Regions from separate parts of the Homo sapiens genome. Here region 2 is linked to region 1. The links come from fine-mapping of genetic effects on gene expression. Tissue or cell type: thyroid. Region 1 holds a variant in brackets; the other region holds the start of a gene. All regions are shown on one strand. Distances are from middle to middle.

The links. PIP is the estimated chance that this variant, and not a neighbour inherited with it, causes the effect.
Region 2: it holds the start of DCBLD1, and the variant in region 1 is fine-mapped to the expression of DCBLD1 in thyroid (GTEx, PIP above 0.99).

What each region holds. Positions count from the first base shown.
Region 1 is chr6:117,459,932-117,462,695 of GRCh38, forward strand. No RefSeq gene overlaps it. Among named protein-coding and RNA genes, the nearest start is that of DCBLD1, 21 kb to the right of the region's middle. The variant A/G (reference allele first, on the strand shown) is at 1,540.
Region 2 is chr6:117,481,039-117,483,802 of GRCh38, forward strand. It overlaps DCBLD1 (discoidin, CUB and LCCL domain containing 1), which reads left to right and starts at 1,636. Exons shown (of 15, transcript NM_001366458.2): 1 at 1,636-1,855. The coding sequence starts at 1,744. RefSeq lists a silencer at 1,512-2,091 and enhancers at 2,452-2,531, 2,542-2,591, 2,622-2,671.

The DNA.
Region 1 (2,764 bases):
TTGCTTTTTTTGCTGAGCAGTATTCCATGATATGCATGTGGCACTGTTTAACCACTCATTCATTCATTGAAAGACATCTGAATTGTTTCCAGAATTTGGATATTATGAATAAAGCTGCTATAAACATTTGCGTACAGGTTTTTATGTGAATATAAGTATTCCTTTCTCTGTGATAAACACTTATGAGTGTGATTGCCGGTTTGTATAGAGTTGCATGTTTAGTATTTTAAGAAACTGCCAAATTATTTTCCAGAGTGGCTGTACCATTTTATAATCCCACCAGGAATGAATGAGCATCAGTTTCTCTGTCTTCACCAGTATTAGGTGTTGTCACCATTTTATTTTAGTCATTATGATAAGTATTACTGATAACATATAGTCTTAACTTGCACTTCCCTAAGCTATAATGATGTTCGGCATCTTTACATGTTCTTGTTTACCATCCATATATCCTCTTATGTCATATGTTTCTTCGTGTCTTCTTCCCATTTTCTAATGGGATTGCTCGGTTTTTTTACTGTTGAATATTGAGAGTTCATTATATGCTCAGGTACGAGTCCTTTGTCAGATATGTGGTTGGAAAATATGTTTTCCATGCTGTAACATGTTTTTTTATCCTCTTAGGCTTTTTTTTTTTTTTTTGCAGAGCAAATTTTTAAAATTTTTACATAGTTCCATTTATCAACTTTTCCTTTTATGGATTGTGCATTTTAAGTAACAAGTCTAGGAATTTCTACCTAGCCCTAGACACTGAAGATTTTCTCCCATGTTTTTTTCTAAAATTTCATAGTTTTAACACTGAAGATATAATCCATTTTGAGTTAATTTTTGGATAAATTGTGTTTGTTAAGGTTCTTGTTTGTTTTTGTTTTTGTTTTGCTCACAATACGTACACCAACATAGACCATATCCTGGGCCATAAAACAAACTTCAATCACTTTAAATAATTGAAGTCATACAGAATGTGTTTTCTGACCACCATGAAATCAAACTAAAAATCAATAGCAGAAATATCTCAAGAACTTAGAAAAAGAGGAGCAAACTAAAACTAAAGCAAATAGAAAGAAGAAAAGAATAAAGATAAGAACAGAAGTCAATGAAATTAAAAACAGAAGGCCAGGCGTGGTGGCTCATGCCTGTAATCCCAGCACTTTGGGAGGCCGAGGCAGGTGGATCATCTAAGGTCAGGAGTTCAAGACCAGCCTGGCCAACATGGCGAAACCTCGTCTCTACTAAAAGTACAAAAATTAGCTGGGTGTGGTGGTGGGCGCCTGTAATCCCAGTTACTCAGGAGACTGAGGCAGGAGAATCCCTTGAACCGAGGAGGTAGAGGTTGCAGTGAGCCGAGATCACACCACTGCACTCCAGCCCGGGTGACAAATGTGAGACTCCATCTCAAAAAAAGGAAAAAAAAAATTAAAGACAGAAAAACAATGGAAAAAATAGGTAAAATAGATTTGGATCTTTGAGAAAATCAACAAAATTGACAAACCTTCAGCAAGACTGACAGAAAGAATAGAGAGAATATATAGATTACCA[A/G]CATCAATATATAAAACAAGGGATATCATTACAGATTTTGCAGACCTCAACAGGAAAATGATGAAATACATTACTATAAACAACTCTACACACATAAATTTGACAACTTAGATGTAGTGAACCACTTCCTTGGAAAACAAGAATTACTACAATTTACCCAATGTGAAAAAGATAAGTTAAATAGCCCTTTAGCTATTAAGAAAATTGAATTTATAATTTTAAAGCTTTCAAAAAGAAGTCAGTAGGCCCAGAAGATTTCACTGGAGAATGCTACCAAATATTTAAAGAAGAAGTAACATCAATTATACACAACCTTTGGAGAAAAGGAGGGAACGCTTTCCAATTCATTTTATAAAGCTAATTTTTCTCTCATACCAAAACAGACAATATAAAACAAAACAGAAGAAACAACTTTCAGGCCAATATTTCTCATGACTATATACACAAAAATCCTTAACAAAATATTAGCAAATAGAATTCAGCAATATATAAAAAATGTACACCATAACTATGTTTATTCCAGGGATGCAAGGCTGGTTCAATATTTGAAAATTAATCAGTATAGTTCACCATATCAACAGACTTAAGAAAAACAAAATTTACATGGTCATATTATTTGATGCAGGACACACATTTGACAAAATTCAGCAGCCACTAATGAAAAAAACTTTCAGAAAAATAGATATAAAAGGGAACATAAAAGGGAACATTCTCAACTTGATAAAAAAAATCCACAAAAAAATCTATAGCTAACATTATACCTAATGGTGAAAGCATGATGCTTTTTTCCTAAGATTGGGTACGAGATAAGGATGTGTTCTCCTCTTACTGTTCTTATTCAACAGAGTGCTGGAAGTTCCAGTCAGTTCAGTAATGCAAAAACAAAAACAAAGCAGGCAAGGAAAAAAATAACCAAAACAAGCAAAAGAAAAGAAAAGAAAAGCATATGTAAAGGAAGAAATAAAAAAATAAGACTGTCTCTATTTGTAGATGACATAGTTGATTATGTAGAAAATTCCAATGAACCGACCAAAAATTTCCTAGGCAGCATAAGTGAGCACTTGAAAACAAATATGTGTTCTGCTGTTAGTTGGTGAAGTGTTCTATAAATGTTAAATAGATGCTGTTCATTGATGGTGTTGAGTTCTTGTATGTAATTTCTGACTTTTTGTACAGTTGTTCTATCAATTGCTGAAAGAGGGGTGTTGAAATCTCTAATTATAAT
Region 2 (2,764 bases), 21 kb after region 1:
TCTGTTAAAAAATGATAAAACCTACCGTTTATTAGGTACTTTCTCTACATGCTAGAACCCAATATACACATTCAGTTAGGTACTTTCTCTACATGATAGAACTTAATATACAAATTCAGTATACACTGAATATACACATATATACCCAGTTTGATTCTGGACCTCAGCTCTTCAACAAAGCTGAGGTCCAGAATCAAACCGGGATCCCCTCCATTTCTAAAGCCCAAGTTCTTTCATCTAAGATATGCTGCCTCAGAGAAAGCAAAGCCCCAAAGACAATCTCATTTGAGATTTTATCAGCTTGTTTATTTAGTTAAAAAAAGAAAAGGAAGAGGAAAAAAGGAACGCATGTATGAAATGAGTCTGTCCAGGGTATCCAAAGATCACGAGGGGCCAATGTTTGCCATTGGAGGGGCTGTTGCTTCCTCTCCGCCTCCACGCTTCCCTGCGCTGCACCTCTAGGTGAAACTTCAGCGTGCCGCGCGGTGGTGCGAAGGTGAGGGCAGCGCGCAGAGGAAGTAAACGGGGACTACAGGGGACCAGAGACGTGAGATAGTCCTTAAAATACATATCTAATCTGTCCTCGTCATTTTCCACTGCCACCACCCTATTCAACTACTCGGTGATAACCCTGTAATTCTCCAGTCTCCAATCTGTCCTCCCCAAACCCTTCTCCGCAACTCCTCAAGAGGATCATCGGGTGGAGTCCTTCCCCCTTCTGAACCTTCCGTGGCTGCTCACTACTCCGAGGACCAAGTTAAACATCCTTTAGGTTATTTAGCTGCACGTCCTGGCCCCTACTCTGTACACTAGCTTCTACATCTGGCCGTGTACCCACCTGTTCACTGTGCTCCAGCTACCTGGCCCTTTCCTCCTTCAGCTTCTTTGCACAACTTGTCTGTTTTGGCTCCTGCTTTAATCTCAGCTTTGATGCCACTTAGGCCTTTCCTAGCTGATTCCCGCCCTCACCCCTGTTACCCGCCATCTAATTACAGCTCTCTAAATGTGCTTCAACAGCACCTTTCATGTCACTGATTGCAATTTGCATTGAATACTTGCCTGATTATTTTTGTCTGCAAGTGCCACATGGGTTTAGCCCTGCTCCTGACAAGCACACTGCTGAACTGAGTAACTTTTGAATGAATGAATGAATGAGTGAATAAATCAGTGAAGGTCCTACTTGGCACTGTCATCATCCTATCATCAAAATATTTCGAGTCCCTCGGTGTTGCTATCCCTGGCATGCCCATCCCCGCGGGCTGGCAAAACCCTGGAGGGGGCAGCCTCCCAAGGCACCGCCGCGGGCTCAGCCCATCTAGGAATGACTCCCGCACCACGCGGCGAGGGGCGGGTCCGGCGGCGAGGTGTCCTGCTGCCTAGCAGGTTCACGTGTACTGGTGCAGGTGGGGAGGAAGGCAAGGAAGGAGCGCAGCAGGGCGCGCCAGATACGTGGAGGGGAGCGCGGGCGGCGCCTCGCTCGCCTCCGGCTTCGCCGTCGGTCACTGCCTGGGAACGCGACTTCCTCCTCTAGGGGCCGACGTGCGGGGCGGGGCGGGGCCGGGCGGGAGACGCCCCCGCAGGGCTGGGCTGAAAGCCGCCCCAATGGGATTCGGTGCGGGGCAGCGACTGCGCCCCGTCCCGGCGCCGCGCTCGTCCGCAGAGGAGGCGGCCCGGCCCGGGCAGCTGCGGCTCGGGATCCGTCGAGGGGAGGCCGAGCTTGCCAAGCTGGCGCCCAGCGGGGTCATGGTGCCCGGCGCCCGCGGCGGCGGCGCACTGGCGCGGGCTGCCGGGCGGGGCCTCCTGGCTTTGCTGCTCGCGGTCTCCGCCCCGCTCCGGCTGCAGGCGGAGGAGCTGGGTGAGTGGAGCGCGTCCGGCTGGCGGCGGGACCCGAGGCGCCAGGGGCGGGCTGAGGGCTGCGGGGCGGGCCGGGCCGGGCCGAGGGCTACGGGGCGGGCCGGGCCTGGGGGGACGGAGCGCGGGAGGAAGTCGGGCTCGCCGCCTGCCATCCGCGGAGTCCGGCTCTACCCGCGGGGCTGGGGGTGAAGTAGGTTACTGCATTCCTTGTCGCTCCCCCACCAAACTCCTTCCTTCCCCCAAAACCAGAGAATTAACCTGGCGTCTCTGCACTTTCTCTCCGCCGCCCCCCAGCCCATTTCACTTAGTTTCCAGACTTCCTGACTCTGCTGGCCCCGTGAGAAGTGACCTGACCCCGAGGGTCGCCTTAGGGGACAGCCGTGTGCAGGGCCAGTTCTTTCCAGCTGCCTTTTGACAAAGCCGCTCCTCGGCCGGCGCTGGGCCCTGCCCTCCCTGCCGTCGCTCCTCCCGCGCGGAATTGGAATCCCGGCGTGTGCGTTCGGGGCTCGTGCGGAATGGCCGGGGCACGTTTGCCGAGGTTGGCCTTGGACGCTGGCGAGCAGGCGGTGCTGCCACCTCCTCTCGAGTGTCCTGCTGGCGCCGCAAGTTGGAATCGTGTGGCTTCCTGTGTATTTGAGCCGGTAGACTCTCAACCAGGCTGCTTTTTCTCTGGAGCTGGTCTTTGACTTGGAGTTAGACCTAATTAACCCACAACCGAGTTTACCCTCTGCCTGTCCAGCATATTAAAGCAGCAACCCCCTTTACCAGCCCTGGGTGTCCCTATTTCATTCGTCCTCATTAATTAGTGCTTTTTTTTTTTTAATAGCAAGGGCCAGCTTTCTGCCGAGTTGTTTCAGTGTTTCCTCTCCTCCCTTGCTCCTGGCCGTATATGCCTGAGCTTATTTAATGG